Linked DNA regions of Homo sapiens. The protein of the gene in region 4 purifies or fractionates together with the protein of the main gene of each other region. This does not show direct contact. Each region holds a gene or a part of one and is shown on either strand. Other genes may lie near its edges. The genes, in order: P3H2, TCEAL9, TBCCD1 and KRABD3.

Region 1 (7,515 bases), on a different chromosome or scaffold from region 4:
GAATGGAGAAAAGTTGGTTTTTAAAAACTAAGCTGATTTGGAGAAAATAAGAAGCACTTAAAAATCTCTTCTAATTCCTACTTGCTGATGGTTCCCTAAAGAAAGACGGTGCAATTATGCTGTTGACTTGTAAACAGAAGTCAAAAGGAAATTCAAGCTCTGTTAAGACTCAATCCAAATATAATAAAAAGGGCTCTGTCGCCCAGAATCTCCTTTAATGTTTTTGGATGGATTCTCTTGTGCTCTGGCTATTCTTTGATTTTGTAAAGAATAGGAAGAAAAGCAAAATTCCAGTCTCCCAGTTCATACCTATCTTAGTAGAAATGTCAACATTTTATGTTCCAATGTCGTCTTTTCTCAAATATTTTTCTTTCTTACTGTCATGTGCTTTTTTCTTTTGCTTTTTAAAAAAGAATTTACAAAACTACTATCACCCACTGCCCCATGACATCTAGCATATATGTTTTATATTTTGCTATATCAAATTAAGCATTGTACTCCTGCTACTGCCTACCTGTGGGTCTAAGTATCCTCATTTTTAAGTTAAGGGAATTAGATGAGCCTCGCAGTGCTCAAACTATGCTATATCCCTCAGGCTTGGCACCATTGACACATTAGACTGAATAATTATTTCTTGTAGGTAGCTGTCTTGTGTATTGCAGTATGGTCAACACCATCCCTGGTTCTACCCACTAGACACCAACAGTATGAATGCTCCCACCTACCATGCCCCAGATCCGACAACCAAAAATACCTCCAGATAATGTGAAATGTCCTCTGGGGAGTACAATCACTCTCAATTGAGAACCACTGCTCTAACTGAAGCTGTGAATCTTAACCTTTGGTTAGTATCTGCATCACCTGAGAAACTGGTAAAAATATAAAGGCCCAGACTAGATTCTAGTTCAAAAATCCAGGGTCTCCACGATCTTACTAGCTTTTTCACAACACAACGAAGTTTTAGAACCATTGTTCCTAAGAAATCAGATAATAAAGTATGGGCAGCACATCATCAAGGAACAAGTTAGAAATGCAAATTTGAAAGCTCCACCCCAGGTTTAGTGAATCCGGAACTCTGAGATGGAAGTCAGTTAATTATTTAAGGAAAAAGTACATTCTTGGCACACTCTGTGAGAAGTTCAGGAGTATAAGAGACTCGTGGATGACTGTCTGTTCCAACATTGAGTAAGTACCACTGGGACAGCATGACCTGGAATCAGCTTCTTGGCACTGCATGGCTCTTATTACCATAAGGTCATGAACTTTTTGTCCTGATCCAGCCTTAAAAAGCAGATCAGATTGGCTTTCCTGGGAGGGAATATCTGGGGGATTACACAAAACCCTACCTATTCTCCAAACCCTACCTACTCATGAATTCTACACAGCACCTGGAACCCCAACTCATAGACTTATTCTTTGGGCTGTGGCATTAGCTGTAGACCTGTGGTTCTCAACCTTGGCTTCGTATTATAATCACCTGGGAAACTTCTAAAAATCCCATCGCTCAGGTCATATCCCAGACCAATAAATCAGAATCTTTCAGAGCAGAAGCCAGACACTTCTTAGGTGATTCTAATGTTCAAGCAAATTTGAGTTGTCAATGAATAGTTTCTCTCAAGTCAGGCAGAGATTGTACGTAAGGTAGTAATACAAGGCATATTACTTACTTACTACTTGTAGTAAGATATAAGAAATAAGGTAGTAGGACATACAAGAGGCTTGAAAGAACCTGGCCAATTTGGCAATCAGTAGGATGTGGTTGCATTCTATAGGCTATTGACTGTGTGCTAATGCCAATTATTTCCCTAAGTCTTTTTAGATCCTTCTAGCCAGAAGCTATCTTTGTAACCTCTGTGTTCCCAGAGCTCTTTTTTCTTTCTTCTTCTTTTTTTTTTTTCTTTTTGTTTTTTGAGACTGAGTCTCACTCTGTGGCTCAGGCTGGAGTACAATGGCGCGATCTTGGCTGACTGCAACCTCTGCATCCCGGGTTCAAGTGATTCTCCTGCCTCAGCCTCCTGAGTAGCTGGGATTAAATGTGCCTGCCACCACGCCCAGTTGATTTTTGTATTTTCAGTAGAGACGGAATTTCACCATGTTGGCCAAGCTGGTCTCCAACTCCTGAGCTCAGGTGATCCACCTGCCTCGGCCTCCCAAAGTGCTGGGATCACAAGTGTGAGCCACTGCGCCCGGCCAACACTTTCAATCTAATCTAACACGTACCACATTCTACCTTGTATTATAGCTGTATACATTATATATATCAAATTTGTTTCCTATACAGTACTGTGAGCTTCCCAAAGGTAAGAATCCTGACTTATCTTCTCTTTCACCTAGAATATTTACTTTAAGAGTAGGCATCAAAAATTGTTAATTTAATTGAAATATATTAAATGATGTAGAAATGTCACCAAATGTACAAATAGAATGTAGCAAGGTATCCTGGCACTTTGCCCTCAGTCCCACAGCAGGAGTTCCTATCCTGATGTGCTTCAAAACCTTCCACAAGTGGACTGATAACCCTGGACTAGACTCCAAAATCTTTATCTGAAAACAGACAATCTCTAGAGAAAAAGTCTGGGCAGATGACTGATGTGCTAATTCTGGAACACTGACCATCCAAGGCATTCAATATACATTCAGCTCCAAACTGGAGCTTTTTCATCAGTGATATGAGCCGAATTAGTAACGTTTGGTGGGAAAAAAAAAGAGCATGATTCATCAGTGTCTCTTGGAATTACACAGCCAGGGCTGTTCATGGCCTGAGTGGTCAAACCTAACAAAATGAATGAAGGAATCAGCATGAATCTCTGGCAAGCCCCTCAGCGTAGTGGTGATTCCACATAAAAGCCTTCTTCGGAAAAATCATAGCAACTAGATACATGCGTGAGTCTTTTTCCCATTGCCTGTCCCTCTGCTCACCATTGCAGGGGCTGAAAGACTGATGAGATTCTCACAGGCACTAGAAGACCACAGAAATGCCTCCAGGAGGCAGGCTGGGATCCAGGGTCCAACCAATATTCTTGTGAGAGTGTGAAGCCAAGGAACACGAAAGAGGGGAACACCTTGGCTAAGAATGTATTCGTGACAGAGGAGAAGGGGAGGAACAGGAAGCCTCCAGCTAGTCGTTTGGAATCTGGCAACCATTTCTGTCAGCTTTCTCATTCCTAGATTGATGCAGATTGCTTAATTCCTTGAGGTAAGGGATATACTAAATTGCCTCTTTGTTCAACTCTTAGAATAAGAATTTCCCTCTCCTCTCCCGTCCCCTCCCCTCCCCTCCTCTCCTCTCTTTTCTTTTTCTTTGTTTTTTTTGTTTTTGAGACGGAGTCTCACTCTGTCACCCAGGCTGCATGATCTCAGCTCACTGCAACCTTCACCTCCCAGGTTCAAGCAATTATCCTGCCTCAGCCTCCTGAGTAGCTGGGTCTGCAGGCACGTGCCACCACGCCCAGCTAATTTTTGTATTTTTAGTAGAGACGGGGTTTTGCCATGGTGGCCAGGCTGGTCTCGAACTCCTGACCTCAGGTGATCCACCCGCCTTGGCCTCCCAAAGTGCTGGGATTACAGGGGTGAGCCACTGCACCTGGCCCACAGCAAGAATTTTTTTCTGAATAGCATTTTACGTGTTAGGCGTCTGGCTGTTTAGGAGATGAGGAAACTGAGGCCCTCAGTTGCCAAGGTCACACAGCTGGTAAACGGACGGAGCCAGAATGCGAGTACAGCTCCTCCTGCCTCCAAAGGTTCTCTGGGCCCTGTAAAACCACGGGCTGCACAGGAAAGGCAGGCTATATATTGTTCTTCCCCTGGCCCAGCGCCCTGATCCAATGCCCGGACACACATCCACACCAAGTTGGACGAAAAGGTAAGGGAGAAACCTTCCCCAAGAGAAGAAGCGGTAAGCTTTGGTTCTAAAGGCCCTGGGTTGGGTCCGTCCTTTGCCACTTCTCAGCTCTATGCATTTAGGCAAATCACTTATCTTCTTAAACCTCCGCATCTGGGCCTACAGGGCCTCTATGGGTTTTTTTTCTATTTATTTATTTATTTATTCTTTTTTTTTTTAACTTTACGTTCCGGGATACACGTGCAGAATGCGCAGATTTGTTGCGTAGGTACACATGGCATCTACGGTTTGATTCAGTCTGAAATGGCGCTCCAGGCTTCATTTAGAAGGTGAAGCACTCTGCAAACTGCGAGGCCATACAGAGATTCCAGAATATGATTAAGGCCCTAACCTTGCTAAGCTGGATTTTCTTTATTTCCCAAAAAGAAGACTAATACTATCCACTTGTACAACCAGAAGGGAGCTCACGTGTAAAGCGCCTCGTCCCCGGCCGGCCTCAAGCGGCGCTAGCTCTCTGGCTGGCGCTGGAGTGTGCCGCCCCTGGCAGCCCCGCCGCTGCAGCGGGGAGCCTGGGAGAGCGGCTCTCGGAGTCTCAGGCAGCAGGAGGAGCGTGTGAGCTGTGGGCGTCCCTTTAAGAGCGGCTGGCCAGGCACGGCCTCCGCCTCTCAGTACGCGGAGCGCCGGCGGTCACCTGGGGCTCGCGGAGCGGCCAGATCGCGGCGGAGTCGGCGCGCTTCCCCGAGGGAAGGTGGGAGAGGGGACCCGGACGCGAGGTGCCCCGAAGCCCTCTCGAGCGTAACCGTCCCGCGCCTCTCTGAGGCGGAGGATGCGGGAGCGCATCTGGGCGCCGCCGCTGCTGCTGCTGCTGCCGCTGCTACTGCCGCCGCCACTGTGGGGCGGCCCCCCGGACAGCCCACGCCGGGAGCTGGAGCTGGAGCCCGGGCCTCTGCAGCCCTTCGACCTGCTCTACGCCAGCGGCGCGGCCGCCTACTACAGCGGAGACTACGAGCGAGCGGTGCGCGACTTGGAAGCGGCGCTGCGCAGCCACCGGCGCCTGCGGGAAATCCGCACGCGCTGTGCCCGCCACTGCGCGGCGCGCCACCCGCTCCCGCCCCCGCCCCCCGGCGAGGGCCCCGGCGCTGAGCTGCCCCTTTTCCGCTCCTTGTTGGGGCGGGCGCGCTGTTATCGCAGCTGTGAGACCCAGCGCCTCGGGGGCCCCGCATCCCGCCACCGCGTCAGCGAGGATGTGCGCAGCGACTTCCAGCGCAGAGTGCCCTACAACTACCTGCAGCGGGCCTACATCAAGGTACCCACAGAGCGCTCCTCCACTGCAAAGCCCCTGCGGCTCTCACACGCTCTCTTGAGCCCTCCCTGCTGCCCCCGTCATCTCTGTTCAGTCTTTCGAATTGGGTCTCCTTAAATATGTGTCTCAGTTTGTGAATCCAGATATCTGGTGGCCCTATCTCTGTATGCAACAATTGATTAACTTGGACAAGTCTTTTTCTCTCTTTCTCAGAGCCAGCTTCTCTCTCAAAAAGAGGACTGTCCTGATAAGGTGATGTTTAAAGTACCCATTCAGCACTAATTCATGAGGCATTGACAAAGCTGAATCTAGTACAATTTATCTTCTCCCTTCTCACTTCCCATTTCTCTTCTCCCTTCTCACTTCCCATTTCTCTTCTCCCTTCTCACTTCCCATTTCTTTTGTCTCCTCTCTCTTATCCTTCCTATACTGTAGTCTGCACCTTTTCTCTGAAGTTTAAAAGAATCTTCAAAATAGTGAAGTTGAAAGACCTGTTCCAAAACAAATTTCTCTCTCTTCTCCCCTTCACCTACAAAAAAGTAAAGATCAAAGGTTAAAGAGAAGGTATGCTTGGAGGAGGCGAAGCTGTTTGAGGCAGTCTCAGTCAAAGTATCCACCCTAAGTGTTGACTTTTTCTCCTTTGATAGAGGGCTTACGTTTTCTGGTGGTATGCATTGGACTGGGTTACTAGGCATCAGTCCTCTCTTTCTAGTTTTATTTTTGTATGCCTAACTTGCCTAAAGTTAGCGTCAGGAGGTATAGTATGCATATTGACATATTGTTCACATCCATAACTTTGAAGATCTCTCTGGATGCTTCAGCAGAGGGAATTTGAATGAGTTCTTCAACCTCCACTGCCACTCACCCAATTTTCCTTCAAATTGACACTCTTAACCCTTCTTTCTCGTTTTCTGTGTTAATATATCAATGTATCTTCTACAGCTACCGGAAAAGTGGAAGCTTTGGGGTTGGTTGTTCATGCTAGCCAATGGACCAGGCTGCTCTGCTCTGCTCTGCTCTGCTGTGCTCTGCTTTGCTTTCTTTTCTCCTCTCCTCTCCCCTCCTCTCCTCTCCTCTCCTCTCCCCTCCCCTCCCCTCCCCTCCCCTCCCCTCCCCTCTCCTCTCCTCTCTTCCTTTTCTTTTCTTTTTTTGACGGAGTTTTGCTCTTGTCACCCAGGCTGGAGTGCAGTGGTGCAATCTGGGCTCACTGCAACCTCCGCCTCCCGGGCTCAAACGATTCTCCTGCCTCAGCCTCCTGAGTAGCTGGGATTACAGGTGTGCACCACCATGCCGGGCTAATTTTTGTGTGTGTTTGTGTATTTTTAGTAGCGAAGGGGTTTCACCATGTTGGCCAGGCTGGTCTCGAACTCCTGACCTCAGGTGACCCGTCCGTCTCCGCCTCCAAAAGTGCTGGGATTATAGGCGTGAGCACGGCTGGACCAGGCTGTGTTTCTAAGGAGATGAAAGTACATACCATGTTCAAATATCCAAATGCCTTTTGCAGCTCATCCCACAAGATCTCTGCCCTCATCTGTGGTAGGGTTCTCTCAGATTGGCAACTGTTGGTGGAGTGCACGAAATTTCAACTAAGTATAAATCTTAACTTCCTTGTGTTGTGGCTAAGGTGTTGGAGTTCACTGGACTAGTATCTTGGGCAAGAAATGAGGAGAAAGTCTGAATCCTTTCCAGGACTTGTCTTCTGCTTGCTTGTGCCTCCTGATTGCTAAGGCATGTATGAAGTATAACTCTAATTTCTTCTAAGTGATTTACACAATTTCTGGTGGTCTTACAGAAATCAGTCAACACCAGGCAGAGAGGGGACCTTGAGTGTCTGACGGTGAAGTTATCATAAGCTAGTTCCCAGAGCAGAACATGGGTGGTCCCTGTAGCTTGGTCCTCCCAGGAGTCTCGGATGTAAGGTTAGCAGTCCTGCTGTTAATTCTGTCACAAATTTTGGACATATTTTCCTTTCTCATATCTGGAGAAAGAATACATAGTCAAGGTCAGTCCTATAAAAACAAATAACCATGAGGTAACTCTCAATATGTGGGTTTCCCTGGTTCTGGAATTCTGCTTGCTTCACTGTTAATGTCAGCATTTGTCAGTCATTTCCCCTCCGGTTCCCTGGTTGGAGGTCAAAGAAGGTGAAGCCATAGGTTTAACATACCTCAAATTTTTGTGGTGAATTGATTACAGGAACAAGTCACACTCTGTAAGTGAATTACTGGGTGTTGTCTGATGAATTAATGAAGTTTAAGAAGTTCTTTCAAAGATCCGTGGCTTCGTGTGTTCATTTCAGTTCTACCAGCAATATTTCTGAGAGCAGAACAAGTCTTGCGTCTTCTCCCTACTTCTCTTCTCTGGCAGTTTC
Region 2 (7,236 bases), on a different chromosome or scaffold from region 4:
TCAATTTTAAAATTGTATATATATATGTGTGTGTGTGTTTTATATGTATTATTTACATAAAAATTGAATGCCCATATATACAGTGAAGAGTGAATAAAGTCTAGGTTATCTCAAAACTATGTATTTCATTGTTCTATGTATGTAATTCAAGTAAACTGTGGAAAATTTGGAAAATACACAAGAATTATAGACATGAAAGTTTTTAGAAATCTATATTCCCATAAAATTAAATGGGAGTTTAATTTTAAGTTTAAATATTTTCATTTTTTCCCCACTAACATTATAACTTATAGTAATATGCTATGAAGTAGGTAAGTTTGACTAGGTAGGATTTTACCTTATATGCTGACTTTAGAATCCATCCTTGGCTTAAGATGCAACTCCACTGCACTAACACATTCAGTGATAATTGAGAGGAAATCTACAGAAAGGACATAAGGGTTTAGACTGACAACATCTAGTGATCGCCTAATTAATATTTGTGAAACCAATAAGTGGATGAAGTGTATATTTGAGAGCCACCAAATAAATGAAATTGAGTGTATATTATTGAGGGTTTCCTTCCTCCTATATGTATTTTTAAGTATAATTAGGATAGTTTTATATACATTATTTATAACCTGCTTTTAAATAATAGTTATTTTCTTTATTTGCAAAAAATAAAACATTTTTACTGGAAAAAAGTAAGGTAACTATAGATACATGCCACATGTCAAGCAGAGCCAGATCCTTTCTGTTTCTATTCATACATATTTTTTAAAGAATTGAATTGGCAACTAAGAATACTATTTTATAATCTGCTTAAACTATTATATTATTGCCATAAGTATTACTTTCTCTAGCAAAAATATTTCCCTAGAAAATATTTTCATCAGGTCAAATTTAAGAAAGAGATGCCTCCTTCCCCATGTTAAAAATGTAGTAGTACACTTTGACCATCTCAAACTTGATTGAAGGGAGGGATAGTCAGAGGAAGGGGAAGAGACCCTCATTTCTAATGCATACTAGTTACAAACATGTAGTCCTTTGAGGAGGTCAGCGGAGCAAGGGAAGGAAATGTGAGGGATTCAACCATCGTAAGGATCTGAAGTCTCAAACAGGTAGTGGAGTCCCTTAATTCAGACCCTGTTCAGCTACAGAGAAGTATGTATATGAAATATGTGCCATAAAATAAAATCATACTATTTGCAGACATTTCCTTACTGTAGAAGTTACATATGCCCCCTGAGAAAATGTAGAAGAGTCTACAATGAAGTAAAAAAATACATATAAATCATCCATAAGCCCACCAACCACCCAATCATACCTAATTCTAATACTGTTACTGTTAATAACCTGCTTTTTCCTTACATAGCAATATACTATAAAAATTTTCATTTCAATAGATACATGGCTGTCTAATATTTGTCAGATATTTTATTTCTTCTTCATTTTTCACTTTTGTCTCAAACATTTTTCTGAATATTAGTAATTAATATATTACTTATTATTTATTTATTTATTATTATATTTTAAGTTCTAGGGTACATGTGCACAATATGCAGGTTTGTTACATAGGTATACATGTGCCATGTTGGTTTGCTGCACCCATCAATTGTCATTTACATTAGGTATTTCTCCTAATGCTATCCCTCCTCCAGGCCCCCAGCCCCCGACAGGCCCCCGTGTGTGATGTTCCCCACCCTGTGTCCAACTGTTCTCATTGTTCAATTCCCACCTATGAGTGAGAACATGCGGTGTTTGGTTTTCTGTCCTTGTGATAGTTTGCTGAGAATGATGGTTTCCAGCTTCATCCATGTCCCTGCAAAGGACATGAACTCATCCTTTTTTTATGGCTGCATAGTATTCCGTGGTGTATATGTGCCACATTTTCTAAATCCAGTCTATCATTGATGGACATTTTGGTTGGTTCCAAGTCTTTGCTATTGTGAATAGTGCCACAATAAACATACGTGTGCATATGTCTTTATAGCAGCATGATTTCTAATCCTTTGGTTATATACCCAGTAATGGAATCACTGGGTCAAATGGTATTTCTAGTTCTAGATACTTGAGGAATCGCCACACTGTCTTCCACAATAGTTGAACTAATTTACACTCCCACCAACAGTATAAAAGCATTCCTGTTTCTCCACATCCTCTCCAGCATGTTGTTTCCTGACTTTTTATTGATCACCATTCTAACTGGCGTGAGATGGTATCTCATTGTGGTTTTGATTTGCATTTCTCTGATGACCAGTGATGATGAGCATTTTTTCATGTGTCTGTTGGCTGCATAAATGTCTTCTTTTGAGAAGCGTCTGTTCATATCCTTTGCCCACTTTTTGATGGGGTGGTTTTTTTCTTGTAAATTTGTTTAAGTTCTTTGTAGATTCTGGATATTAGCCCTTTGTCAGATGGGTAGACTGCAAAAATTTTCTCCCATTCTGTAGGTTACCTGTTTACTCTGATGGAAGTTTCTTTTGCTGTGCAGAAACTCTTTAGTTTAATTAGATCCCATTTGTCTATTTTGGCTTTTGTTGCCATTGCTTTTGGTGTTTTAGTCATGAAGTCCCTGTCCATGCCTATGTCCTGAATGGTATTGCCTAGGTTTTCTTCTAGGGTTTTTATGGTTTTAGGTCTAACATTTAAGTCTTTAATCCATCTTGAATTAATTTGTGTAACTTATTAGTAATTTAAATATATAAATACAACACTTAGAAAATAAAAGTTCTCTTTATATGAAATACACATTCTCAAGTATATCCTATGATGTTCAGGATATATTCATCTGCATTTCTAATGATATAAAAATACAGTAAGACCCTGAAACAACTTGAGTTTGGATATAACATGATTGGTGATAGCAGGTGGGGAGAGAGTAAAATGGATGGATGATATTTAAGTCCAAGTGCTCAGTGAAGAATTGTTTGTGGCAACAAATCACAGCTGAGTCCTTGATGAATTTGGGTTGTGTAGCCAGCTAGCCAAATAGACTCACATCAGTCATTCCATCCATCCATCTCTCAGTAACATAACCTGGAATTTTATAGAATGAATTTCTGGACTTCACTTATCATGTTATCATGTAATTTAATTGTATACTCATATTTTAAATACACAAATATGTATACTGTTACAAAAATGTAATACCACATATAAAATTAACTTTCAATTTGCCTTTTTTTGTTTAACAATATACATTGAACAATTTTTTTCATGTGAGTAAATGTAACTCCACATCATTTTTTCATCACTGTATAATGTGGCTCTATATGAATGATCAAACTTTTCTTAAACCAATTTCCTTTTAGAAACATATAAGTTTTTGGCTCTTTAAAAAAAACACTATTGCCACAACTACTACAATGACCATATTTGGCATAGGAGTATTAATGTATGATAAATCTCTAGAAGAGGAATTGATGTGTCCAAAAGCACATATCTTCTAAAGTTTGATATTGCCAAAATGACTTCCAAAAATGTTGTACTACTTAATAGTCTCACAGTACATGTGAATATTTGTTTTACCATATGCTCATCAACTCTGAATATAATCAATATTTGTCTTTTCTAATTGTACAGATGAAAAATTAACTCTTATTTTTATTTTCAATAGATCTCAATTCTATGAGCATATGCTATTATTCCCTTCTTTCAGATGAGGAAACTCAGGTTCACAATGTGTACCTGACGATTAATTGATGATTCTTCAGGCAGCACAGCTTCCTGGTAACACCACCATGAGGACTCTGGAATGAAACATTACTCTTTTTTAAAAAATTCTGTATCATTTTCCTCACAAAACTTCTAATATCACAACAGCTTTCACTTTAAAAGCACTTACTATATGCCACATGTACAATAAGCACTGTACATGTATTAACTCATGTCATTAAAGTAATTTTTTCTTTGTCTTTTCTGACTATAAAAAGATAAAAGTTGCCCAGTGCAGTGGCTCAGGCCTGTAATTCCAGCCCTTTGGGAGGTTGAGGCAGGAGGATCACTTGAGCCCAGGAGTTCGAGACCAGCTTGGGGAACATAGACCCTGTCTCTACAAAAAAATTAAAAGACTAGCTGGACATGGTGGCACACACCTGTAGTCCCAGATACTTGGGAGTCTGAGGCAAGAGGATCACTCGTTTCGAGGAGTTTGAGGCTGCAGTGAGCTGTGATCGCACCACTGCAACCCAGCCTGGGCAACAGAGTGAGACCCTGTCTCAAAAAAAAAAAAGAGAAAGAAAGACAGAAAAAAGAAGAGAGAGAGAGAGAGAGAGAGAGATTAAAGTTACCTTTTTAAAAAGGATATAGAAGTACGAAAAATAAAAAGTAAAAATTGCATTCAGAAATCTCACTCTTGTTCCAGGGTCTTTTTTTGTTGTTGTTTCACAACTGCTGCCAAGGCCACCCTGCTCTACAACAGCTAAGAACCAGATTGCAGAGGAAATGGAGGCTAGAGGAGGGACGACTGATGGAGGAGTTATCCTGGGAGTGGAAGAATGGAAGAGACAATTCTCGAAAGAAGTAGAAAAGTTCAGTAGCTCCAGAAAAAGAGGTAGCCCCTCCCTAGTAATCAGAGTCAAGCAAATAACATTTTTCCCGCTGGGATAGGAAACAACAGAAAAGACTGACAGGGCCAAATGTATAAGTGGGGGGCGGGGAGGGAGAGAGGGTGGGCCCACTTCTGCCGCGCTTTTGGTGGGAGTGGAAATTAGGGACCCGAGCTCACTGGTGACGTAGATCTCATGTGACCAGGAGTCGACGTGTGCAGAAGTCCTGGTAATCTGGTCCTTGTTCCCGTCTGGATACCAGCTTCCTTCAGCAGCGCAGGCGGTGGTCCCTGAGGCCCGTGGAAGGAGTCAAACTTGCGGGAATTTTGCAGGTTGGTGTCACTGTAGGTGTTGACTGGGGATTTCTAGTGTGGGGGGGTTTAAGGCAGAGACTTGTGGGAGTGCCGGTCAGGTCCGTCCCTCCACCCTCCACCTCCAGGTCTACGGGAACTGATGACCCTTGGGAAAGGGACTAGGGGTCCTAGGAGAAGAACAGGGAGACCTGTGGTAGTTTAAAAATAATCATCCTCTGCTATCTAAGACTGCTTTCCGGACCCCCACCCTCCTCCCGAACCCCGCCTCAGTCTTAAAGATAGTTTGGAAATAATCTGCTTTCTCACTCTTTGTCTGATGGGAAAAACGAACTGACTTGCATGCACTGTGGAGAGGGGGTGAACTAGGGGAAACAAAAGGTGGGAAACTTTCCATATCCGAAACCCTAAAGGAGGAAAGCTACGTGTGTCAGTCTCTGGCGCTGGTCGGCCCACCAAGCGCTCGCCCCACCCCCACCGTCCCCTCCCGTTTCCAGTTTATCTGCAGGGCTGTTGTTTCCAGCAAGACCCAAAGCTAGAAAAGGAGGAGGAAGAAACTGACCCGATCAGTGCCAGGTAGGTGAGAGGAATATTATAAAGTCTCCTGGGGTGGAGACAAAGGTTGTAAGCGCCACCGTTCCTGCCGGCTCCCTTCCACCCCACCCCTTTCCCCTCTTCTTTTCTCTCCCCCTTCTCCTTTCCCCTCTTCCTCTGCCTGCCAGCCACCTTTCTCTTTTCTGGCCTGGTCCCTGTGTTAGGCCCTATGGGGGAAAAAGGTCTGGGGAGGGCTGGACGGCGGAAAGGAGGGCCTTGGAAAAGGTTAGAGGGAAGGACAAGAGAGAAGTGAGGAGGTGGAAAGTGGAGGTAAAAGGAGTGGGGATAGTGAAGCTCTGATTGCTGACTGGGCTTCTTAGGTGGAAGATATTTTATAACAGCTCTGAATAAAAAAAATTAAATGCTAAGGCCTCTGTCCACAGCACCTGTCCACTCACCAAGTCTTTAACTTACTGTCTTCTTTTTGCTTTCTAGAAGTCATTGTATTCAAAGAAGAATAAGCAAGAAAGAAAAGAAGGAAGGAAGAGAGGTAGACAGATACAAGATGAAATCCTGTCAAAAAATGGAAGGAAAACCAGAAAATGAGAGTGAACCAAAGCATGAGGAAGAGCCAAAGCCTGAGGAAAAGCCAGAAGAGGAGGAGAAGCTAGAGGAGGAGGCCAAAGCAAAAGGAACTTTTAGAGAAAGGCTGATTCAATCTCTCCAGGAGTTTAAAGAAGATATACACAACAGGCATTTAAGCAATGAAGATATGTTTAGAGAAGTGGATGAAATAGATGAGATAAGGAGAGTCAGAAACAAACTTATAGTGATGCGTTGGAAGGTTAATCGAAACCATCCTTACCCCTATTTAATGTAGTTTACCTTGATTTTTATCTGATATTAACAATACCATATAGCTTGCTTTTTATTAGCATTTCCTGATATTCCTTTGTCCATATTTCTACTTATAACCTGTTGCTATTAATGGTTTTAGATGTATCTCTTGTTATCTGCATCTCATTGTTTATTGTATTTTGAACCAATCTACAAGTCTCTGTCTTTTAATAAAAGAACTTTACACATTTGTAAAAAAGAGGTTCTTGGTAAGATATAAAATGGAAAAAGGCTAAGTAATATGTGAATATCATATTTTTGAAAGGTAAAAAGTACATTTGTATATTACATATATGGACATAACTTGTGAAGGATGAAAGAAAGTACAGCCTCTCGGTGGTGGGATTATGAATGATTTTTCTCCTTTTGCTTGTTTGTATTTTCTATATTCCTAAAATTAACACACATTATTATTGCTAGAATAATAAAAGTTTTATAAAAAAGAAGCAACAAGCAGCACGTATTAGTTTATTTCTAAAAGTATTGGGGCATTTAATATTTGTTGACAGAATTTTAGAAGAAATGTGAACTTGAAAGTAACTCCAGACCACTTAGCTAGAATAATAAATTTTACATATTTTCTCATCTTTAAAATAAAGAAAATAATCTCACAAGGATCTGGTGAGGGCCAAATAGAGTAATGACTGTGAGCTATGTTTGACAGAGTTTTGTTCCCATCCCAACTCCGTAAGAGATTAATTTCAGCGATTTGGAAGGGTGGAGAAAGTAGTTCTTATCTGTGATTAAGAACAAACCCAAGGCCGGGCGCGGTGGGTCACACCTCTAATCCCAACATTGGGAGGCCAAGGCGGGCAGATGACGAGGTCAGGAGATCAAGACCATCCTGGCTAACATGGTGAAAGCCCGTCTCTACTAAAAATACAAAAAATTAGCCGGGCATGGTGGCAGGCGCCTGTAGTCCCAGCTACTCGGGAGGCTGAGGCAGGAGAATGGTGTGAACCCAG
Region 3 (7,023 bases), on a different chromosome or scaffold from region 4:
TATTATCATTTAGTCATACGATTTTAGGCAAGTCAGTTAACTTCTCTAGGCCTTGGCTTCCCTTCTGTAAGTGAGGATAATAATGCATGTTTCTGAATGACTATGAGACTTCAGTAATATATTAGCATGGGACTTATTGCATAGTAAGCACCAATAAATGGTGACTTTGGTTTATACTACAGCACGACCTCTCTGAGTAACTGATTGGACCGGGGTGGACACTTGAGTAGCCCATTTATTGCTATACATTTGAAATTGGCCAGATTTAAAGTGACGACCTGGGCCAGTCAGTTCCCCCAGGAAGAAATTATGCATTGGTGATAGGTGTTTGAACTAAAAACGCATTTGACATTGGGACTGGAATAGCCATCATGCTTGTTAATGAACTGGAATTCTAAGGGATTAGAAATTCTGAGGCCAAGCCGGGCGGATCACCTTTATAAGGTTTATATAACTACCTAATTCCTTTTGGGGGATGAGGCAGAGTATAAATACAAAATAATTAAAATATAGAAATTTTAGATCTTGTGGAATCTCTTTATTAAGAGTGCTTTCTTTTAACTTTTTTTTAGAACTGGAATGATTACAGTCACCAAGCTTTTGTCTATGATCATCTGTCTGATCTCCTCGAGCTGCTTTTAGATCCAAAACAACTCACTGCATCATTTCATTCAACCCATAGTAGTCTAGTGTCTCGAGAAGCTGTTGTGGCGCTCAGCTTCCTTATTGAAGGTACAATAAGTAGAGCCAGGAAGATCTATCCACTTCATGAACTTGCACTGTGGCAACCACTGCATGCAGATAGTGGCTTCTCAAAGATCTCTAAGACTTTCTCTTTCTACAAACTGGAAACCTGGTTGAGGTCCTGTTTGACTGGGAATCCATTTGGTACATCAGCTTGCCTCAAGTCTGGAAAGAAATTGGCTTGGGCTCATCAAGGTATTTTTTAATATTTTAATCTACATTAAATTGAATGACAACTTAAGGAACCTAGTGTTTTCTAATATATTAGTGATCTCGTGTCTTCTCTAGAAGACCTAAAAAATACTGCTCCTATAAAAGAGAAAAAGGAACATCTGTCTTTTGTGCATGACTTTTTCTCTCAAGGATTATACTAAAATATTAAAAATGATAGTAGGATTACAAATTATTTTTATCTTCTTTTACTGTTATTTTTCTAAATAACCATATATTATGTACCTGGTACATGTGTAATAAAAGTAAACGTATGTAATAAAAATAAACAAGAAATGTTTTAAAAGAAGAAGAATAATAGCATACTCATGTGACCTCCCAGTATTTCAGCGGTGTTGTTTACAAGGGTGTCCCGGTGGCTTGCAGGGAGGTACAGTCTGAGAAGGCAGTCACGTAACGGTGTGACTGTGTTAGGAGAACCTGCGCGTATTTTTTGAGTGTCAGTTTGTGCAACACACTGTGTGGGATAGGAAGATGTGCTCTCAGGTAGTAATGATCTTAGGAGTAAAGACATGAACTCAGGCTGGGTGCGGTGGCTCACACCTGTAATCCCAGCAATTTGGGAGGCTGAGGTTGGCGGAAGGTGAGGAGTTCGAGACCAGCCTGGCCAACATGGAGAAACCTCAGCTCTACTAAAAATACAAAAATTAGCCAGGCGTGGTGGCATGCACTGGTAATCTCAGCTCCTCAGGACGCTGAGGCAGGAGAATCTCTTGAACCTGGGAGGTGGAGGTTACAGTGAACTGAGATTGCACCACTGCACTCCAGCCTGAGTGACAGAGTGAGACTCCGTCTCACAAAAAAGAAGAAAAAAAGGCATGAACTCAAATAGGATTAATGGGATAATGTGGTAAGTTAGGAAGGGTACAGAATTAATATTATGGTAATTTAGAGAGGTGAATTACGTTTGGGATGATAAAGTAAAGCATCTTGGAGGAGAAGATATTTGAGTTAGGACAGCTTTGCCACTTACTAGCCATATGACCTTAGGCATAGACCTTAACTTGAAGCGTAGACACGAAAAAGTATCTTAGACTTATAGGCAATCTTAAATTCATTATAGGTTTTAAAATTTTTTTTATAACAAAAATGAAAATTCCAAACATACAGAAAGGAATAGAGAATAGTATAGCAAATACCTCTATCCAAAGCCCAGATCTAACGTTTTTGTCCCTACATGTGGTATCTAATTTGAGACATATATACATGTAGACGTGTAACCTCATATGTTTGTTTGTTTTTCTTTGATTTGATACTGCCTCATCTATTTATATGTTTTCTTAAATAGTTGAAGGGACCACCAAAAGAGCTAAGATTGCTTGTAATACTCATGTGGCCCCTAGGATGCACCGACTGGTAGTGATGAGCCAGGTTTACAAGCAGACACTGGCTAAGAGCTCAGACACTCTGGCGGGGGCACATGTAAAGATTCATCGTTGCAACGAATCTTTTATATATCTGCTCTCTCCCTTACGGTAAGCACAGTTTTCATGGTGTTCTGATGTTCTGACATTTTCTTTGGACTGTGACTGATTCTTTTTTTGCCATCAGATAATAATATTTTAGTCAAATTTTTAAAATCTTATTCAGAGGACTTTACCTCATTTTTTCCTTTTTTCAGATCTGTGACAATTGAGAAGTGCAGGAATAGCATCTTTGTCTTGGGCCCTGTAGGGACTACACTTCACCTCCACAGTTGTGACAATGTTAAAGTCATTGCTGTTTGCCATCGTTTGTCCATCTCTTCTACAACAGGTTGCATCTTTCACGTTCTTACGCCTACACGCCCACTTATTCTCTCTGGGAACCAGACAGTAACTTTTGCCCCTTTTCATACACATTACCCAATGCTAGAGGACCATATGGCCAGGACTGGCCTTGCTACAGTGCCTAACTATTGGGATAATCCAATGGTTGTGTGCAGAGAGAACAGCGACACAAGAGTCTTCCAGCTTTTACCACCTTGTGAATTCTATGTATTTATTATTCCCTTTGAAATGGAAGGGGACACAACAGAGATACCCGGGGGTCTTCCATCTGTATATCAGAAAGCACTGGGTCAAAGAGAACAGAAGATACAGATCTGGCAGAAAACTGTGAAGGAGGCTCATTTGACAAAGTGAGTATTTTTTACAAGTAACAGTTTGTGTTTTTTGTGAAACTCCATGGAGAAACAAATTAGTCTGCACATTTTTACAGCTGTGCTAAAGTAATAAAAAATGTAAGGCTGGGCGCGGTGGCTCACGCCTATAATCCCAGCACTTTGGGAGGCCGAGGTGGGTGGATCACCTGAGGTCAGGAGTTTGAGACCAGCCTAGCCAACATGGTGAAACCCCGTCTCTACTAAAAATACAAAAATTAGCTGGGTGTGGTGGCGTGTGCCTGTAATTCCATCTACGTGGGAGGCTGAGGCAGGAGAATTGCTTGAACCCAGGAGGCGGAGGTTGCAGTGAGCCAAGATCGTGCCATTGCACTCCGGCCTGGGCAACAAGAGTGAAACTGTGTCTCAAAAAAAAAAAAAGTAATGTGTTTTTAAATTAAGGTTTGGATTTCAAATTAGTATTTCAAACACTGTTAGGTTGGGGATGGGAGTGGGTAAATATCCAGTATTAGACTCCCTTTTCTTAAGAAGCTAAAGTTTAGTTGGCAAATATAAGACTTACATGAATTTAAAAAATCATACATAGAGTATGCCACATAATCCAATACCATTCTAGGCACCTTCTATGTGCTAACTCATTTATTCTTTGTAATAACACCTTATTACAGGTGAGGAAACCGAAGAACTGAGGAATTAAGTACTTTACCCAAAGTCACACAGGAGCCAGGATTCACACCTAATCAACCTGGTTCCAGAGGTTCTTTTTTTTTCTCTGTTCTGACTTCTCAGTAACCAGAGGTTCTTAAATGCCTCTAATGTCTTCATTGTTTTCTTTCAAATATTGTCATACCATATCATACTGTACAATAATAACATTATAATAATGTGTTGTAAAAATGGATGATCATGAAAAAACATTCTTTTAAAGCAGTTCTGTTGTTTGAATGGTTCTAGTATTTAAATGGTTAGATTCTCTACACTTGATCTCAGCCAAAAGGCCAAGAAACGATGAAGTGCTTAGATTCTCTTACATGTGAAAAGCTCCTGCATATACATGTGCAGACTGTGGGATGTAAGCACTTAATAAATGCTGACTCTGAGTCAGTGTTTTCAAGTGGTGAGATCCACAGTGATCCCAGAAACAATGAAAGTAGTCAGTTTAACTTTGGGAATATAGGAAGACAGAAATCAGTTTGAAACAAATTGCCAGTGTGACCCTTTTAACAGTGATTACATCATGTCATTTCCCTGCTCTGACCCCTCTAATGGCCTCCCATCATACTTCAAATAAAATCCAAAGCCTTTACCATACTTACCAGGCTCTCTCTTCCTCAATTTCTGCCGTTCTTTTCCTCATTTCCTCCTTCCCGGCATACAGCAGTCATCTTACTATTACTTAATCACTGCCCTCTGACCAAAGACCACCAGGAACACATCTATAGAACAAAGGTGGATTGTGTTGACTCATGGCAAGGAGGGAGAGAAGTGTGTTTCATCTCAGTAAAAGGTTGGGGAACATGGAAAACTGTGTTTCAACTCAGTAAACAGGTGTTAAAAGGAACTTATCGTTGGATTTTGGCTTGTGTTAATGATTTGGGGGAGAGTTCTAGGAAGCAGGACTATCTGGAAGTGAGAGTAATGTGTGATTTGACAGTTTAATAACTTTTATATCTAAGGCAGGAGGAAGGAAGGAAGAGCTAAAACTATAATTGTAAAGAAGTAGCCACTCCTCCAGGAAAGGAATGTTTAGTGATTTTATGGTTTGGGTCACAACATTTTTTTGGAGGTTGGTGTGGGGGTTTCTGAACTGAGATACGATTACGGAGTGATCTTGTTCTTTCTTTGGTCTATCATCATCCCAGAGTGGCTTTGTCTAATGGTGGTGGTTTAAGGTATTGTTTATGTTCAACAAAAGAATACAATAGCAAGTCCAGATCCTACACCAAGGCCTAGCTGACAGTGCTAGGCTAGCTCCTGGCTGTCAGGAGCTACTCTTCTCTTTCTTATCATGAACATGTGAAATACGCTCTCACTTTGGAACCTTTGTACTTTTTTGGTCTCTTCTGCCTGGTATATTCCTCTCCAAATACTCATTCTGCTTATTCCATCATTTCATTTAGACCTAAGCTCAAATATTATCTTAGGGAGGCCATCTCTCTCCATTCTTTCTCTGAAATAACATTTCCAGAATTGCTATTCCTTCACCCTGCTCTATTTTTCTCCATGGCACCTAGAACTACTTAACTTTATATTATATTTTTATTGTATTGTATTGTATTGTACTGTATTTATTTTGAGACAGCATCTCGCTTTGTTGCCCAGGCTGGAGTGCAGTGGTGTGATCTTAGCTTACTGCAGCCTCCACCTCCTGGGTTCAAGCGATTTTCCTGCCTCAGCCTCCCGAGTAGCTGGGACTTAACAAACATGTGCTACCATGCCTGGCTAATTTTTATATTTTTTGTAGAGACAGGGTTTCACCATGTTAGCCAGGCTGGTCTTGAACTCCTGGCCTCAAGCGATCCACCCGCGTTGGCCTCCCAAAGTGCTGGGATTACAGGCGTTAGTCACCATGCCCGGCCTATTTATTTTATTTTTACCTATCTTTCCTACTAGAATATATAGTCTTCAGGAGCATGGATTACACAGATCACAATGTGAATGGTGCCCTCTGGAGTCGTGAAGTGTCATCCTGCTTCAACAGGGGCCTTGTCTCTTCTCTATACATTTATCCCCATCAGTCAGAACAGTACCCAGTGTTCACTTGGTCCTTGGTAAATATCTGACAATGAAAAAGTAGAAAGAGGACATTGTATCTGATCAATCCTTTGTGGGGTGGGGGTGTCCAGTGTACTCTGAACAGTGAGAACAAAAGGATAACAAGAAATAATTAATCATTTAACATTATCCTATTAAAATATTGTATAATTGCTTAGAGTACAATTTATATGAATTCATGTTCTTATATTCTTTTTACTCATAATCGCAATTTTAGGGATCAAAGGAAGCAGTTCCAGGTACTGGTAGAGAACAAGTTTTATGAATGGTTGATTAATACAGGACATCGCCAACAGCTGGACAGCCTTGTACCCCCTGCAGCAGGCTCCAAACAAGCAGCTGGATAAGGATCTTACATGCAGACACTGGTAGGCATTTATACCACTTAAAACAGATTCTTTTGGGGAAATCTTTCAAGCATAAAAAAAAGGCACAGAATATTATATACTAAACATGCCCAAATTTTTTCTACCGCTCCTACCAGCATACACGGACCTTTATGTACCCATATTTACCATATTTTATAGTGAGAAAACCAACCAAAATATTCAGATGGAGCCTATAGAATTTGGGGCCAATATAATGGCCAAATTTTGTCTTATTTTGCTTTTTGCCTGGGACAAGTTGTACTGTCCAAAGATACCACATTCCCCCATACATAGTTCTAAGTTTTATTCTCCTTTTCTAAACCTTTCCTCTTATCCATTCCCCTCACAAAAACCAATTTACAAATTAGCTGATCTTTGCTAATTACACATATTAGCAGTAATAAATTACCAGAATTAATCCAAATGAAGATTTGATTACTGAACACTAGAAGATCATGGATTAAATAGAAGAGAATATGCATACAAACAAATTTACTGGAAGTAAATTTAATCCAGACATATGGTATTCTTTTTTTTTTTTTTGAGACTGAGTCTCTGTCTCTCGCCCAGGCTGGAGTGCAGTGGCGCCATCTCAGCTCACTGCAGCTTCCGCCTCCTGGGTTCAAGTGATTCTCGCACCTCAGTCTCCGGAGTAGCTGGGAAAACAGGCATGCACCACCACAGCTGGCTAATTTTTGTATTTGTAGTAGAGGCTGGGTTTCACCATGTTGGCCAGGCTGGTCTCAAAACTCCTGACCTCAGGTGATCCACTTGCCTTGGCTTCCCAAAGTGATGGGAGTACAG
Region 4 (7,023 bases):
AAGGCCAGGGGGCGGCTCCCTGCTGAGAGCTGCTTCCCTGGGGTTAGTGGAACCTTGCCAGGGACTGACAAGCCCATGGGGAAGACCACCAGAGCAGCCAATCTCAGGCCTCACCTTGAGCCTCAGGGCCCCAGCTGGGTTGGGGGACCCCTCTGGTGTCTCCAGTGGCTGAGGGACTGAGGGGCTGCCTGCCAGGCTGACAGGATGCAGGTCCTGGGGGGCTCTGGACCCAGCTGTTCTCCATCTTCACAGAGAGCAGACCGCCAGCTCCAAGATCAGGATGGGGAGGAGGGGTCAGGAGGTATCCAGGCCCTGCGGGAGGAGGCCATTGGGAAGCCCAAGGTTCAGGCCTGGACTCACCCTGAGAATCCCTTGAGGCCTTTATAGGGTTAGGAGGGGCTTCCAAAGCCCCTGTGCCTCCACGGCAGTCACCGGCTCAGACTGCTGTCACTTGTCAATCACCAGCAGAGACCTGAGTCACACGCCTCCTCCCCTACCATGGCCCCTTGGGGTGCCTCCAAGGTTTCTACCAGGCATGAAGTCAGCCCTCCCCAGACAGCACCAATCATGTCTTTCTCCATGGCCAGCACACCTGACTCAACCCAGCTGCTCAGGGCTTTGTTCTGAGAAGCTAACAAGCTGAGGTGACATGCACGGAACACGAACCCCTGTGTGGGCTGGGTGGGTATAATTAGGATTTGGGGTTCCCAGCTCTCACACACATGGCAGAAACCTGACCCAAACACACAGGACCCCAAGCCACAATGAGGAGCTGCGTGTGTGCTGGGCTAGAGCTCCATCCTCTATTTCTTGATCTCGCTCCCTCCCCACTTTCCTTTCAGAATGTCCAGCTCCTCCTCTAAGAGCCAGCCTGAGAATTATCAAGCGCTGACCGAGCCCCTCCCACACAGCTCGCTCCACTTACACAGTGGGGATCCCCCGCATCCGGATCCTCTTCCCGACAGGCCAATATGGGGGCCTGAGTGTTTGTGGTGGGGGCCACCTACAGCCCTGCCTGGGGCAGGGTAATGTAGGATGTCTGGGGGCCCTCCCAGCCCAGCGAGAAGCCTTTACCTCCAGAACCCCTTTTCCAGGCTCCTGGATTCTCCTGTAGCCGTCGGTTCCCCACTCCTGAGGGACTGGGATGCCTGTCCTGGGCCTCGGGGAGCTCCTTCAGACAGTGTAGCAGACCCTGGAGGGGACAATCCCCTGAAACCGCCTCGGTCTTCACTAAGGAAAAAGGAACATGTTTTCACCTGGAGCTCAGTGTCCTCAGCCTTCATGACAAACAACAAACAGGGGACAAGTTAGAAGGGCGTGGGGCCAACTCTGAAGATGAGGCTCTTCCAGTGGCTCGCTGAGTCTTCCCAGTGCCTGGGTCCACACACCTGCCAGAACCGGACAGGGCAAAGAGGGAAGCCATGGAATTCGCCCTGCAGGCAGACAAGTGGCATCACTCTGAGGACAAATTGAAGGAAGTGGGCTGTCAGGGTCACTGTTTGAGACAGCTCTGGGGTCCTGAACAGAACTTACATTTGAGGAAAATGGAGTTGTACAGTAAGTACATTACTGCAGCTAAGCTCACTGCGGCCCTGTGAGTGGGAACAGCCTAGGCTCAAGGCATCAGGAGCCTCTCCGGGTCTGACTCCAAGACCTGTGCCCCGGCCCCTCCACCATGCTGTCCAGAGCCCAAGCCCACCCCATGCATCATGCCTGGCGTCAATGCAAAGCAACACATGAGCTCTGCAGCTCTTCCCCTCGGGTCCCAAGTCAGGAGGAGGAAGAGACATGAAGAAACCAGGGCAAAGCCTGCTTCCGAGTTTCCTTTTCCCAGCTGACCAAACGCTGCCCTTAAGAGAGCCACCTGGCTCCAGAAAGGTGACACTGGCAACACAGCAGCGACCAAGCTGGTAACGATCCCTAAGGGAGACAGTTTGGAGCAGGAGGAATCGCTGTTGAAATGCAAACCAAGCTTCAGAGACCTCAGCCTGAGGCCCCAGAACTCACCTGCCCAGGGCGGGCTCCCAGGCCCCAGGTCTGCTCTGGTTAGCCTGGACGTGCCCAGGCTAGGGAGAGGTGGCAAGAAGCTTGGGGATGTCTCGGGGTGCCGGGGCCCAGGCACAAGGATTTCCTTCAGACAGTTGATGAGGCCTTGCAAGGGGCTGTTCCCAGGAGAAATTCCTGTGGCACATGCAAGGTGGGCCTGGGTCAGTGCAGTCCTGACGGGACACCGGGAGCGCTGGCAGGCATTCAGGTCTCCGGGCGGCTGAGATTCCCACCCGTGAGAATGCAGACAAGGCCTGCCCGGTGGAGCTGCCACCAGGCCCAGGCGGCGGAGCAGCATGACCTCCTCGTGTGAACTAAACACACTTCCCCATCGCTACCCCACTAAGGAAAGCCCGCCTCTCACCGGCCTCTGAGGTCCCTCTCTCCTGTCCTCTGTGGCTCTTCCTCCTGCTGGGGCTATGGGTGGGAGGGCTGGGCTCCCCGCCCAGGGCTCCTGGGCCTTCCTTCCTTGTAGGCCACGGTTTGTCGGCAGTTTCTGTTGCAGGAGAAGACAAGAGGGCCTTTCTAGCCCCAGCTCCAGACTCTGGAAAATCACACCAGATCTGGTTCCCATAGAGGACAGCCCTCTCCAGCCACCCAAGTCCCTGTTCGAGGTGGGCTGAGGGCCTTTACCGTTTCTTTCTGGTTTAACTGGAAACAGCAAGACTGTTGGTTCACTGTGAACACTCCCAGACCCTTCCCCCTGAGCCCAGCCTCGGAATTTGGCTCAGGAAGTGATGCCGGCAGCCTTGACATGTAGGCCACAATCTCACACTCACGCTTCTCAAACCAGGGCACACACAGGGCACACAGAACCCCAGAGCAAGTGTGCCCGACGACCCCTGAACACCAGATGAAACCACAGCTAAATGGGGTATGCTCTTTGGGAGTGCCAATTTTATTCCATATAAATTTGAAGTACTTTTTTATAAAAACAGACATGCAAAATTTGTGAGAAGTTTTAAAAATAAAATGAGACCCCAGAGAAATCCTAGGAGCTCCCCTTGCCCTGCTCTGCAGTTAGGGTTGCTGTGATGAGACGGTCTAAGGATCAGACCAGTGCACACAGGTAGGTCAATGCTGCTGGCCGTGGGCCTGCATGTTAGAAACTGCCGGAGACTTTCTGTGTACAAAGTGCTCAGTGATCGGGGCGGGATGACAGGCTCCCCAGGGGCTGAGCATCATGCCTCCTCTTTGGTGGTTACACCAGAGGCTAAATATGTTGTCCTGCTCCCTGGCGTACTTTGTTAACAAAAGAACAGCACAACAGGGGAACTGAGTCCTAGAAAAAAATGAAGAGGGCACAGGGTCCAGGTCCTCTGACGCCACGATCAGGGCTTTTGAAATGCTGGTTCTCCCTGTCCCTGCTGTGTCAGACTCACTGATGGGGAGAGGACTTCCCTGGACCCCGTCACCAGTTGGGCCACTGGAACACGAGCTGTCGGTGGGCGTGGTGGCCAGGTGGGGCTGGCTGGTAGGGCCGTCTGGAAGGCAGCTGAGCAGGCCTCGGAGAGGGCAGGGCTCTCTTGCCGCAGCTGCTGTCGGGAAAGAGGGAGAATCAACAACTGGTAAGATGCCCCTAACATTGTCACACTGTCACATTCTGGGTCCTTTCCTTGCCATGTACTAACAATGACCAGGATGTCAGCCACCTATGTGTTGTCATCACTGGGCTCTGAATGGGGCCATGGTGGGTGGAGGGTGACAAAGCCACACAGAAACCACCATGCGAAAGTCAGAGCTGCCCTCTCGCCAGCTATGGGCATGTGCTCAGAGGGCGGCACACGGCCTAGCCACGAGGAACAGCAGGTGACTCTGCCTCCCGGCCTGTGCCTGCAAGCCCACATGCAGTGCAGTGCCGTGGACTTGTGCTTCATCATGCGGAGTGCAGAGGAGGCTGCGTGCACTGCCCCACTGTCTGACTTACCCTCGGGGCTCGCTCTCTCTCCATCCAGGCTGGCTCCCCGGCTCTCGCTCTCGGGGCTGTCCATAGCGCCCTTGACTTCTCCAAACAAGAACTCTGGGATCTCCTTCACCAGCTGCACCAGGGCTGTGAGGTGCAGGCTGTGCCGGGGCTGTCCCCCTGCAGAGAGGCCACAGTGACCCCCCCGCACCCCTGCGGCTGCTCAGCACTCACACCTACGTGCGTGTTTTCACACCCAGCATCTCACGTAATCCTCCCAGCCACATGAGGAGCAGCCAGAGGAGACACCATGTCCCATGAGATATAGAGGACCTGGGCTCAGGCCAGGCGCTCTGGCCAAGGGACAGCCAGGGCATGGGGGCGGGGCCTGGGTAACAGGGCTCCTCTGTTCTACGTTACTCATTAATCTCCATGCCTCCCAGGGGAATGCCCAGGCGGGCTGCCGCTACACTTCTTCCACCATCTGGGCCCTCTGCCTTTCCTGGCACCCCCTAAATGCCTGGCCTTGCCCAGTCTGGGCCGGTGGAGCACATCCACCATCTGAGGTCTTGGGATGTAAGCCTCGTGGCAGGACTTTTGGGAGCTGGAGCAGGTTCTGCAGGGGTGGCTGTGATAAGGCTTCAGGGTGGTGGTGGGTGGGGGGCCTGAGGCAGGAGGTACTCTCCAGGGTGACCCCAGGCTTTCTCTGAGTGCTTCTCTGCATAACAGGCTTCCAGCCCAGAGGGATGAGGGGTGAAAGCTTGGGAGGTTGCAGTAGGGGAGGCAGGGAGGTGAGAGGCTGGACTGAGTAGGCTGAGGTCACGCATTGCCTGGGGCTGAGGACCGATGAGTGGGAGGAGACACCCAAAGTCTGACAGATAACTTACCCTGGGGATCTCCACAACCAGCAGGCTCCTGCCCCTCATCAGCGTGGCTCCCTCCCCCAACAGCTCTTCCAGGCTCTGAGGGTGACAGGAAAGCAGAGAGGGGGAGCAGCTCAGCTGTCCCTGGGAAAGAAGAGGGAACTGTGGCCCTGGGAATGGAGTGGTCTCCGCTTCGCACACAGTTGCATAGCAGCCCAGGCCCCTGCAGGTCTGTGCACATTCATGTGACCACTTAAACTCAAAGAACCGCAGAGTGGTCGGAACCTCAGAGGCCGCCGCATACCCCCACCGAATTGTACCTAGAACCCGGTCCCGGGACATAGAATAGCAGCAGCGTGAACGATCCCCGTGTTCATTTCTCAGGTGGAAAGACTAAGGCTGCCGGGTCCAGGGACTCCGGCCTCCCTTCCACCGCCCACCAGGCTCCTGCCACACGTGCTGCTCCCTCCCGTCCTTACCCACAGAGACCAGCGTCTCGTAGTTCTCCCGCATCACGTCTCGGTAGAACTCCCTCTGCCCCTCCTCCAGGAGCCGCCACTCCTCCTCCGAGAACCGCACGGCCAAGTCCTTGAAGGTGATGGACACCTGCAGGCACAGTCTCCGGGGGGGTTGGTTGTTCCATCCCAGAGGGGACAGCCTAGCTGTCCCTGCACTTGGTAACCCCACCTAGGCCTCCAGGCGCACACTCCAGGATAATAGCCAGGGTCTGACATGCAGGAATCCCCTCAAGAGACAGTGCTGGGGGTGAGCTGTGTCTCTGCAGAGACACGCTGAAGTCCTAACCCTCACGCCTGTAAGTAGGACCTTATTTAGAAACAGAGTCCCTGCAGATGGAATTACTTAAGATGAGGTCATACTCCTAAGTAGGGGGGACCCTTAGTCCAGTATGACTCATTCCTTATCAGAAGAGACACAGAGACAGACACAAAAGAAGAAAGCTGTGTGAAGACAGGCAGAGACTACAGTCATGCAGCCACAAGCCAAGGAATGCCCAGGGCCACCAGAAGCCACAAGAGGCAAGAAGGATCCTGGCCCAGAGCCTTCAGAGGGAGTGTGGCCTGCCCACACTGTGACGTAGGGCTTCGGGTCTGCAGGGCTGTGAGAGAAGACATTCTTGCTGTCCACCTAGTTTGTGTGCTGGGTTTAGAGAAGTGCTCAGAAGAAACCTGGGGTTGCCCTTGGAAGCTTTGGGTCACCAGGCTCCTTTACACCCTGTACTCCTATCTCCTATTCTCTGTACTCATCTCCTCCTACCCTGTGGCTTTTTAAAATAACACGAGCATTTTTGTCTATGTTTCTTTACAAAATAATCCTTCGGCTGGGTGTGGTGGCTCACGCCTGTAATCCCAGCACTTCGGGGGGCCAAGGCAGACAGATCACCTGAGATCAGGAGTTCGAGACCAGGCTGGCCAATATGGTGAAACCTTGTCTCTACTAAAAATGCAAAAATTAGGTGTGGTGGTGGGCGCCTGTAATCTCAGCTACTCAGGAGGCTGAGGCAGGAGAATTGCTTGACCTCGGAAGGCAGAGGTTGCAGTGAGCCGAGATCACGCCATTGCACTCCAGTCTGGGCAATATGGCGAGACTCCATCTCAAAAAAAAAAAAAAAAAAAAAAAGTCCTTCAGTGGACTTTAAAGTGGCCATCAGACACTAGAAAATGACCAGCATCAATAGGCTTGAATTTAAAATTATGGCAAAAATTAACTGTGCAAATTAAGCAAACAGAAGGTAAATTATGGGAAGGGTCCTTCCTGTTGAGAAATGAATGTTAAACTGTTTATTTGTGAGAACAAATTATTAAAGAAAATGAACACGCCCCTAATAAAGCAAAGACAATTCACCGCTTGTTTCATCTGCTCAGGGCAGTTATTTTAATTAATTAATTAAAAAAGACAGGACCTTACTATGTTGCCCAGGCCAGTCTTGAACTCCTGGGCTCAAGTGGTTCTCCCACATTGGTCTCCCAAAGTGCTAGGATTACAGGCGTGAGCCCCTGCACCCACCCAAGTCAGTGATTCTAAAAACTGTCCCAGGCTGGGTGTGATGGTTCACGCCTGTAATCCCAGCACTTTGGGAGGCCCAGGTGGGTGGATCACCTGAGGTCAGGAGTTCAAGACCAGCCTGGCCAACATGGTGAAACCCCATCTCTAATAAAATACAAAAATTAGCCAGGCATGGTGGTGGGTGTC

The links.
Region 1: the proteins of KRABD3 (region 4) and P3H2 purify together in Homo sapiens (co-immunoprecipitation; 3 studies listed by BioGRID and IntAct, with this or other methods). This does not show direct contact.
Region 2: the proteins of KRABD3 (region 4) and TCEAL9 purify together in Homo sapiens (affinity purification with mass spectrometry; 2 studies listed by BioGRID and IntAct, with this or other methods). This does not show direct contact.
Region 3: the proteins of KRABD3 (region 4) and TBCCD1 purify together in Homo sapiens (affinity purification with mass spectrometry; 2 studies listed by BioGRID and IntAct, with this or other methods). This does not show direct contact.

The regions. Positions count from the first base shown.
Region 1 is NC_000003.12:190,117,884-190,125,398, reverse strand, and holds the start of P3H2 (prolyl 3-hydroxylase 2 isoform a precursor), read left to right. Parts: upstream 1-4,501; 5' UTR 4,502-4,667; coding exon 4,668-5,147; intron 5,148-7,515. UniProt on the Homo sapiens protein: Prolyl 3-hydroxylase that catalyzes the post-translational formation of 3-hydroxyproline on collagens. Contributes to proline 3-hydroxylation of collagen COL4A1 and COL1A1 in tendons, the eye sclera and in the eye lens capsule.
Region 2 is NC_000023.11:103,351,746-103,358,981, forward strand, and holds TCEAL9 (transcription elongation factor A protein-like 9), read left to right. Parts: upstream 1-4,760; 5' UTR 4,761-4,861; intron 4,862-5,337; 5' UTR 5,338-5,416; intron 5,417-5,869; 5' UTR 5,870-5,939; coding exon 5,940-6,254; 3' UTR 6,255-6,717; downstream 6,718-7,236. UniProt on the Homo sapiens protein: May be involved in transcriptional regulation.
Region 3 is NC_000003.12:186,550,325-186,557,347, reverse strand, and holds part of TBCCD1 (TBCC domain-containing protein 1), read left to right. Parts: intron 1-572; coding exon 573-939; intron 940-2,263; coding exon 2,264-2,450; intron 2,451-2,596; coding exon 2,597-3,094; intron 3,095-6,068; coding exon 6,069-6,198; 3' UTR 6,199-6,219; intron 6,220-7,023. UniProt on the Homo sapiens protein: Plays a role in the regulation of centrosome and Golgi apparatus positioning, with consequences on cell shape and cell migration.
Region 4 is NC_000007.14:149,717,941-149,724,963, reverse strand, and holds part of KRABD3 (protein KRBA1), read right to left. Parts: intron 5,496-7,023; exon of another isoform or gene 5,419-5,495; coding exon 5,292-5,418; intron 4,957-5,291; coding exon 4,837-4,956; intron 4,130-4,836; coding exon 3,974-4,129; intron 3,585-3,973; coding exon of another isoform or gene 3,582-3,584; coding exon 3,429-3,581; coding exon of another isoform or gene 3,121-3,428; exon of another isoform or gene 2,924-3,120; intron 2,591-2,923; coding exon of another isoform or gene 2,543-2,590; coding exon 2,411-2,542; intron 2,182-2,410; coding exon 2,008-2,181; intron 1,231-2,007; coding exon 1,075-1,230; intron 313-1,074; coding exon 115-312; intron 1-114.